2 linked regions of the Homo sapiens genome follow. The protein of the gene in region 2 purifies or fractionates together with the protein of the main gene of each other region. This does not show direct contact. Each region holds a gene or a part of one and is shown on either strand. Other genes may lie near its edges.

What was found. Proteins that work in one complex are often made in the same cells at the same time.
Region 1: the proteins of GPR18 (region 2) and FLG purify together in Homo sapiens (affinity purification with mass spectrometry; 2 studies listed by BioGRID and IntAct, with this or other methods). This does not show direct contact.

The regions. Positions count from the first base shown.
Region 1 is NC_000001.11:152,311,740-152,316,241, reverse strand, and holds part of FLG (filaggrin), read left to right. Parts: intron 1-764; 5' UTR 765-785; coding exon 786-923; intron 924-1,284; exon of another isoform or gene 1,285-1,494; coding exon 1,495-4,502.
Region 2 is NC_000013.11:99,254,331-99,260,388, reverse strand, and holds GPR18 (N-arachidonyl glycine receptor), read left to right. Parts: upstream 1-2,009; 5' UTR 2,010-2,235; intron 2,236-3,869; exon of another isoform or gene 3,870-4,061; intron 4,062-4,482; 5' UTR 4,483-4,516; coding exon 4,517-5,512; 3' UTR 5,513-5,650; downstream 5,651-6,058. UniProt on the Homo sapiens protein: G protein-coupled receptor (GPCR) that plays a role in diverse physiological processes particularly within the immune and nervous systems.

The DNA.
Region 1 (4,502 bases), on a different chromosome or scaffold from region 2:
TTAGTTGTGACTGCTACAGTAATCTCCTTCACATTGTTTTCTACAGTATTTTAGTTTCACCTGGTTTTGTAAGTCCTAATAAAGTTATAATTCTTTATATAATACACACTTAGATTTATTGACATGCTTACTAATTTCTTCACCAATGAGATAAACTGAACATTCCTTAAATGGCAAAATGAAACCCAGTCAGAAAAACCTTTCTCTTTAAATATTGAAGAGCTATTAAATCCATCCTATACAATGAAATATTATAAACTTCATGAAATGTTTAAAAAACAAATAAAAAATTGAATGAACTTTCATTGAGTATCTTGTCATATGGCTAACTGGCTTTCAGAGAATTGTGTCTTAGCAAATTAATCATTTATTAAGTTAGCTTTTGGGGAAGTAATTTTCAGTAAATTTGTATAAGTAAATTTTACTGCTTAAAACCAGTCAGCCTTTCTAAATTCTTGTTGCTAGCAATGGCAAGATCAGCAAGAGGGATGATCTTACCTAGAGCACACTGAGGTCTGTGAGACTACTAAGTCCAGCTGTAAGTGGGCACAAGGCCAAAAAATGGGCAATTTTATTTAAGTCAGGAAAACTCTATTCATTTGTTTTATGTAGATGGTAGAGAAAAGTTTCTCATGTCCATCTTCCATTCTTAAAGATGGATTACTTAGAGGAAAATGTAGGTTTAAAATGTGGAAAATGATTGTAATAATATAACCTAGAAAAAAAGATGTATAAAAAAGTGCATTTTCATTTCTTCTTTCTAGGTTCACATTTATTGCCAAAAGATGTCTACTCTCCTGGAAAACATCTTTGCCATAATTAATCTTTTCAAGCAATATTCAAAAAAAGATAAAAACACTGACACATTGAGTAAAAAAGAGCTGAAGGAACTTCTGGAAAAGGAATTTCGGCAAATCCTGAAGGTAAGAGTCTCTGACAAGACCAAAGATAGAGCATTTGTTTTTCTCATCAATAATCTAAGCAAGGGTTATTTTGAGCTCTTTGTGAACTATTTCTCTTAAAATAGGAAAAGAGTTAATCTTGTCTCAAAAGAGATAGATTTTATTTTCTTCCCCTATACCTGGATGTATATTATAAACATAAAGACACCCTCAGAGAAAAAAATATAAATATTTAAAAATTAATGTAAATTAGTTCTTAGTATTTTGGTATTTATAATATTCTCCCAAACATCAACATTACTAAGGGGATTTTTGTTAAAGACAACTAAGTAATGAATTATATACACTTCTGACTTTTAAAATAAGAAAAAGAGTCACTTACCCCATCAAATCTTGATACCTTACTAGTCTACATCTTTGTTCACATATAACACCTGAATGAGGATGAGACAAAAAAGTCTTAAAAAAAAAAAAGATTTTGTCCCACTTTTTAATACTCAAAGATCAGGTTCCTTAAATTAACTTTGAATTAATTGGCTGATAATGTGATTCTGTCTGATGCAGTCTCCCTCTGTGACTTCCCTCTGTACAGAATCCAGATGACCCAGATATGGTTGATGTCTTCATGGATCACTTGGATATAGACCACAACAAGAAAATTGACTTCACTGAGTTTCTTCTGATGGTATTCAAGTTGGCTCAAGCATATTATGAGTCTACCAGAAAAGAGAATTTACCGATATCAGGACACAAGCACAGAAAGCACAGTCATCATGATAAACATGAAGATAATAAACAGGAAGAAAACAAAGAAAACAGAAAAAGACCCTCAAGTCTGGAAAGAAGAAACAATAGAAAAGGGAATAAGGGAAGATCCAAGAGCCCAAGAGAAACAGGGGGGAAAAGGCATGAATCTAGTTCTGAAAAAAAAGAAAGAAAAGGATATTCACCTACTCATAGAGAAGAAGAATATGGAAAAAACCATCATAACTCAAGTAAAAAAGAGAAAAACAAGACTGAAAATACTAGATTAGGAGACAATAGGAAGAGGCTAAGTGAAAGACTTGAAGAGAAAGAAGACAATGAAGAAGGAGTATATGATTATGAAAATACAGGAAGAATGACTCAAAAATGGATACAATCAGGCCATATTGCCACATATTACACAATCCAGGATGAAGCCTATGACACCACTGATAGTCTATTAGAAGAAAACAAAATATATGAAAGATCAAGGTCATCTGATGGCAAATCATCATCTCAAGTGAACAGGTCAAGACATGAAAATACAAGCCAGGTACCATTGCAGGAGTCCAGGACAAGAAAGCGTAGGGGATCCAGAGTTAGCCAGGACAGGGACAGTGAGGGACACTCAGAAGACTCTGAGAGGCACTCTGGGTCGGCTTCCAGAAACCATCATGGATCTGCGTGGGAGCAGTCAAGAGATGGCTCCAGACACCCCAGGTCCCATGATGAAGACAGAGCCAGTCATGGGCACTCTGCAGACAGCTCCAGACAATCAGGCACTCGTCACGCAGAGACTTCCTCTCGTGGACAGACTGCATCATCCCATGAACAGGCAAGATCAAGTCCAGGAGAAAGACATGGATCCGGCCACCAGCAGTCAGCAGACAGCTCCAGACACTCAGCCACTGGGCGCGGGCAAGCTTCATCTGCAGTCAGCGATCGTGGACACCGGGGGTCTAGCGGTAGTCAGGCCAGTGACAGTGAGGGACATTCAGAAAACTCAGACACACAATCAGTGTCAGGCCACGGAAAGGCTGGGCTGAGACAGCAGAGCCACCAAGAGTCCACACGTGGCCGGTCAGGGGAACGGTCTGGACGTTCAGGGTCTTCCCTCTACCAGGTGAGCACTCATGAACAGCCTGACTCTGCCCATGGACGGACCGGGACCAGCACTGGAGGAAGACAAGGATCGCACCACGAGCAGGCACGAGACAGCTCCAGGCATTCAGCGTCCCAAGAGGGTCAGGACACCATTCGTGGACACCCGGGGTCAAGCAGAGGAGGAAGGCAGGGATCCCACCACGAGCAATCGGTAAATAGGTCTGGACACTCAGGTTCCCATCACAGCCACACCACATCCCAGGGAAGGTCTGATGCCTCCCATGGGCAGTCAGGATCCAGAAGTGCAAGCAGACAAACACGAAATGAGGAACAATCAGGAGACGGCACCAGGCACTCAGGGTCACGTCATCATGAAGCTTCCTCTCAGGCTGACAGCTCTAGACACTCACAGGTGGGCCAGGGACAATCATCGGGGCCCAGGACAAGTAGGAACCAGGGATCCAGTGTTAGCCAGGACAGTGACAGTCAGGGACACTCAGAAGACTCTGAGAGGTGGTCTGGGTCTGCTTCCAGAAACCATCATGGATCTGCTCAGGAGCAGTCAAGAGATGGCTCCAGACACCCCAGGTCCCATCACGAAGACAGAGCTGGTCATGGGCACTCTGCAGACAGCTCCAGAAAATCAGGCACTCGTCACACACAGAATTCCTCTAGTGGACAGGCTGCGTCATCCCATGAACAGGCAAGATCAAGTGCAGGAGAAAGACATGGATCCCGCCACCAGCTCCAGTCAGCAGACAGCTCCAGACACTCAGGCACTGGGCACGGACAAGCTTCATCTGCAGTCAGAGACAGTGGACACCGAGGGTCCAGTGGTAGTCAGGCCACTGACAGTGAGGGACATTCAGAAGACTCAGACACACAGTCAGTGTCAGGCCATGGACAGGCTGGTCACCATCAGCAGAGCCACCAAGAGTCCGCACGTGACCGGTCAGGGGAAAGGTCTCGACGTTCAGGGTCTTTCCTCTACCAGGTGAGCACTCATAAACAGTCTGAGTCCTCCCATGGATGGACAGGGCCCAGCACTGGAGTAAGACAAGGATCCCACCATGAGCAGGCACGAGACAACTCCAGGCACTCAGCATCCCAAGATGGTCAGGACACCATTCGTGGACACCCGGGGTCAAGCAGAAGAGGAAGGCAGGGGTCCCACCACGAGCAATCGGTAGATAGGTCTGGACACTCAGGGTCCCATCACAGCCACACCACATCCCAGGGAAGGTCTGATGCCTCCCGTGGGCAGTCAGGATCCAGAAGTGCAAGCAGAACAACACGTAATGAGGAACAATCAAGAGACGGCTCCAGGCACTCAGGGTCACGTCACCATGAAGCTTCCTCTCATGCCGACATCTCTAGACACTCACAGGCAGGCCAGGGACAATCAGAGGGGTCCAGGACAAGCAGGCGCCAGGGATCCAGTGTTAGCCAGGACAGTGACAGTGAGGGACATTCAGAAGACTCTGAGAGGTGGTCTGGGTCTGCTTCCAGAAACCATCGTGGATCTGCTCAGGAGCAGTCAAGACATGGCTCCAGACACCCCAGGTCCCATCACGAAGACAGAGCCGGTCACGGGCACTCTGCAGACAGCTCCAGACAATCAGGAACTCCTCACGCAGAGACTTCCTCTGGTGGACAGGCTGCGTCATCCCATGAACAGGCAAGATCAAGTCCAGGAGAAAGACACGGATCCCGCCACCAGCAGTCAGCAGACAGCTCCAGACACTCAGGCAT
Region 2 (6,058 bases):
TCAGTCAGAAATTCAACCAATATTAAATGCCTCTTCTCTACACACATATGCAACACATGCCAACTCTCAAGGAATGCAATTTAGTGGAGGAGAAAAAGCAAGTAAATATGCAGTAACAATGCAAACATGTGCCACTACAGGGATAGGTACCAAGTGCTAAGGAAACCTGCAGGGATGAACAACCAGCCCAGCTTCGGAGGGCAGAGAAACCAGCCCAGCTTCGGATGGCAGAGAAAGCTTCCTGAAAAAGGTAGCTACAAGAACAAAGAGCAGCAGGCCATGCCATCAGGTGGGAGACAGTGGTGAGGAATGCCACAGTGGGTGGAACAGCATGTGAGAGGCAGGAAGAGCAAATGTAGCCAGTCCAGAGGGCTGGAATGGAGAGCAAGATGAGGAAAAAGTGAGAGCTCACCCCAACCTGAAGCCAGGCCTATGGAGAGCCCTCAGGTGCTCCTGGATGCCTCCTCTAAGAGTCTGGCAATTCAGAAACAAGAATGCCCCTGTGCACCGTGAAGAATTCAAGTCTTGATGAAAGGACTCTTCTAGACACATGCCATCAATGTATCTGTTGATTTTAGCAGCAATGGGGAAGCTAATCAATACTTAATTTTAGAAAAGTCCTAAGCTATGTGAATAAGGCAAAGGACAGATTAGGTCTGCATGCAGGCAGATTTCTGTCCAGCTGAAACATCAAACTCCTGTGTGATGAATGAAATATAACATCACATATAAAAAACTGATGAATGTGATTCAGCCATAAGAAGTCCTATCTAGTGGACAGATCAATATAATTACCTCATAAGAAGTTATTACAGCGGGAGAAACTGGACCTGGCTTTACCTTGAGTTCTTAAGCAAGTAACTGGCCTTCAATTTCTTCATCCACACAAGAAATAGTTGCTATGGTTGTCTCCAACACTTCTAAAACCCATCATTCTGGCAGGTTGTAACAATCAAAAGTATTTTATCACCAAAGGCAAGGATTTAAGTAACTTTTCTAAGCCACAGATTTACTATGGTTTTGTCTGAGAAAAAAAAAAAAAAGGATGGACCCCAAACTGTCTAAAATTCAAAAAAACAAATACATTTAAGTTCATGAACCCTTTAAAAAGTTGACAAACCATGCATAACCAAACATAAAGATAATTAAAATTTTAGGATAAGCAAATGAGAGATAATTTTTTTTAAGAAATGAGAAAGTAAAACAAAATTAACCTAACAAGGCAGGCAGCGATTCGTTGCTCACTTCCCTTTCTGCTGGTTTCATTTCCCTTCTTAGGTGAAAACACTCTTAATATGTAAATCAGTCCACTAAAGACTTCAGAGTCCTTTCTGCTAAGATTTGCAGAAATTTTTATGCAAAAGAAATTATTTCTAGACTTCCACGCACTAGAAAAGCAGACTTACAAAATACAGCAAACTAAAGTGGATAAATGTATGTGGCAAAGCAGAAGCAATTAATCAAGGATCCTACTTTTAAGCATTTAGAAATGTTTAAATAGTAAAAAGTGGAAATGTGGATATTCTATGATTTTTAATAACTTGGTAGTAAAAAGTGAGACTCCATTTAGGAGTACCTACTAAGTGCCAGGTACTATTAAGCACTTGGGATCTTTCTGGTTTAGGGCCCCTACAATCCTACTGGATATAGTATTATCTCTATTTCAACTGTACAGAAATGAAGTAGGAACAAAGGGTTAGTCAGAGTGGGTAGGTAACTAGACAAAGTCACATAGCTTATAAAGCAAAGAAGCTAGACTTTAAACCCCCTTTTACTCAATATCAAATCTTCTCTTTCCATAGATGATGCAGACTTCAAGCATCAAAGTACACAAACTGAAGAAACTTTATCCTTTGTATATAATTATCTTAAATATATGCCATCATTTCAAGGGGAGCTTATGCTAAGTGTGACTTCATAAACAAATCATTTGTGAAAGAGAAAAACCACATCCAGGGTAAAGTCATAAGGTGAAAAAGCCTATTTCAGAGAGCACTTCCTGAAAGAGACAAAGCAGCAATTAAAGTCAGCCCAGCACCAACTCCGACGCCAAGCGTTACACTGGAAACTACTTTTTAAAGCAACAAAAGAGTCTAAAACAAAATACAACATTTCTTAAATACACTGTTTCCAGAAAGAGCTATTTTAACAGAAGCAACTCAAAGATATCCCTTCGACAGAAGTGGAAGTGCTGAAAAATGCTCATCTCTCACACAGACTTTTGATGGACAGGAGGTAAGCAGCATTTAATTAACTTCATGATTATTGTCAAAAGTAATGCTTTATGTACTGCATTTCAAAAATCATTTCATTTTAATAATACAGGCTGGGCGCAATGGCCCACGCCTGTAACTCCAACACTTTGGGAGGCCAAGGCAGGAGGATCAGTTGTGCCCAGGAGCACCATAGTGAGACCCCGTCTCTATTAAAAAAATATATTTAATTAAAAAAATAAACATAACAAACTATGTTGGTGAAAGACCTTGAAATAGGCTATATAATCATCTTTCCACATTAATATGATTTTACATTTATTTTCAATATTGCTTTACATTAATACTAAATGTAATTTTTTTCAACTTAAGGAAAGAAAATGTTTATGGTAAATCATATGTATATTTAGGAATGTTCATCACATGTTTTCAATTACATTGTTTCATGAAATAACTTAATGGTTTTTAAGAAAAGAAAAGCTACAGATAATCATGGTATCTATAGCTTTTAAAAAGCTGACTTTAAAGTCAATCACTTTTCAATATTTATCCAAAAATTTCTGTGTTTGCAGAGCACAATCAATACTATAATGCCTTTAAAACACATGCATCACTCATTTTTTTTCAAACGTCAGCAAATGAATATAAGTATTGGTGACAAGCTACATAAAAACAGCTTGAGCATAACGTGGGAAAAAAGACTCAAGATGGTTTGTAAGTACAGGACTTATGTCACAAAATTGAAGGATGAGGATAGGTGAAGGGAGTCCTGATGCAATACTAAAAAAAGAAAAACAAATACAAAATTTCATTTATATTATAATTGCTACTATTTAATAAGAATGCATTCCAGTTAAAAATAAGATTTAAGCCTCCAAGATTACTCTCCTTTGAATGACACTAGAGATATAATTTTTCTCTGTAGCACTTTCCTCATTTGATAGAAATTAATATTCTAGTCACACCAATATTTGGAAAATTTAATATGTTTTTAAATATATAGAATTATGCTCCTAAATCATATTTAACCTAAATATTTGAGAAGGAAAGAAGGAGAAGAAGGGAAGAAAGGGAAGGGAAGGGAAGGGAAAGGAAGGAAGGCAGACAGGCACGTTTCTTGTGTTTAACCACAGCAATTGCTCAAGTTAATTCTTAATTATCAATAGCCCGTGATGCCACTGACCACAGACAGCAAATCTCCCCCATAGTTTTCCTTAAAGAGAAATTCTGGGCTGATTTCAAGACAGCCCACTCTGCAAAGTGACATTTTTGAAGGAAACTTTTCATCCACCTCCATATTACAAGGGGATGCCACAGATTCCATCTCATTGCAGCAAAGTCTATTTTTGAAGTCTGTTGTTGGTGTTGCATCATGGGGGAATGAAGTTTCACACTGAGGAGTCAATGATATTTGCAACCCCAAATAACCTCCTTTCCATTTAAAATGGACGGTTTTTTTTTTTTTGGTGATGGAAATTTATAAGTTTCTACATACACATCAAGTTACTGAATGACTTCTTATTAATATCTACTTGTCTTAGATACTCCTTTTTTGGATTTACTTTGAAAATTGTTAAAATTTAAATAATATTGAAGCTTCTGAATCTAGATGGAATGAGGATATGAAAGTTACTAACGGCACTAGCTTTTTTCAAGGTGCTGCTTTCTGTGAACCACTGAAGTAGAGCAGCTGAAATCACAAAACCTGGAAGACTTGGCTTTACGTACTCCCAATTGTGCACTAGAAAACAGCTCATCTATTGCTCTAACAGTCTAGTTCTTGATCTGCTGACCATGACACAAAACATTGCTGTTTCTCAACCTATGATAATTTAAAGAGAACATAAGGTAATAAATATTATGAAGTGTTTCCACTTTAAAAAAAACAAAAAGTTTAATAGCCAGCTACACAAGTCTTCATTTTCAAACTAGAGAATTACAAACTAGAGTTTTTTAGCAAAGTAGAGTTGCTGTGAATCATCTCATCAAAAGTTCCTTCATTTATTCATCAATTCAGTAAATATTTATTTATTGAGTACCTATTACATGCTCAATAGACAGTGGGGCTATAGCTGTAACAAAGGAAAAGTTCCCATTCTCTCTCAAATGAGAATTACTGTGAATGTTCAGTAGTTAACCAGTTGAATCGTTCCTTGATTAAATGCTCTCGAACTTAAAATTCACTGGCAGTCAAGCTGAGTGGGAGAATGTTAAGCATTTATTTTTTAACCAACGATTTTATTCTTATTTTTCTTAACTATTTTTACAGTTTCTAAGTATCATGCCTACCAACAAGCTGTAAAATGATCACCCTGAACAATCAAGATCAACCTGTCCCTTTTAACAGCTCACATCCAGATGAATACAAAATTGCAGCCCTTGTCTTCTATAGCTGTATCTTCATAATTGGATTATTTGTTAACATCACTGCATTATGGGTTTTCAGTTGTACCACCAAGAAGAGAACCACGGTAACCATCTATATGATGAATGTGGCATTAGTGGACTTGATATTTATAATGACTTTACCCTTTCGAATGTTTTATTATGCAAAAGATGAATGGCCATTTGGAGAGTACTTCTGCCAGATTCTTGGAGCTCTCACAGTGTTTTACCCAAGCATTGCTTTATGGCTTCTTGCCTTTATTAGTGCTGACAGATACATGGCCATTGTACAGCCGAAGTACGCCAAAGAACTTAAAAACACGTGCAAAGCCGTGCTGGCGTGTGTGGGAGTCTGGATAATGACCCTGACCACGACCACCCCTCTGCTACTGCTCTATAAAGACCCAGATAAAGACTCCACTCCCGCCACCTGCCTCAAGATTTCTGACATCATCTATCTAAAAGCTGTGAACGTGCTGAACCTCACTCGACTGACATTTTTTTTCTTGATTCCTTTGTTCATCATGATTGGGTGCTACTTGGTCATTATTCATAATCTCCTTCACGGCAGGACGTCTAAGCTGAAACCCAAAGTCAAGGAGAAGTCCATAAGGATCATCATCACGCTGCTGGTGCAGGTGCTCGTCTGCTTTATGCCCTTCCACATCTGTTTCGCTTTCCTGATGCTGGGAACGGGGGAGAACAGTTACAATCCCTGGGGAGCCTTTACCACCTTCCTCATGAACCTCAGCACGTGTCTGGATGTGATTCTCTACTACATCGTTTCAAAACAATTTCAGGCTCGAGTCATTAGTGTCATGCTATACCGTAATTACCTTCGAAGCATGCGCAGAAAAAGTTTCCGATCTGGTAGTCTACGGTCACTAAGCAATATAAACAGTGAAATGTTATGAATAATAAGGTTCTTTCATTTCAATCCCATCAAAATTCACTTCACTAACTACTCTGGCGTCAATGGATATTCTGTATAATACTATCAAGTCCCTTTTCTCTTGAAAAAATAAATTCATTATCTTCATTTTAAAAACTTATATAAAACATTTTTGTGAATTATTCAGAGAAAAGCATCTGATTTTTCTTTCCTAGTCAAGCCTTGTTCACACAGATAATTAACTTTTTGCATTTCTATGTGCAAGCGACACATGTGTGTTAATCAAGTCAGTAGGGGGGAAATCGAGCTACCATACAAAATAATTTGATTAAATTATTTTCTATCTAGATGCAGCTCCCTTAGGTCTAATTTGCACTAGGAATGGAATTATAAATCCAATACTTTATGTCCCAAACACTGACTTCCAGAATTCCTATATAAGAAATTATGTTGAACTCATTACTGTTACTTACTACAAGGCAAAATTAATAGCAACAAGAACCCAAGGGGCCTGTTACAGCCATCCCCATCAGCCCTTCCCTACTCTGAATTCATTCTTTTAAAAACA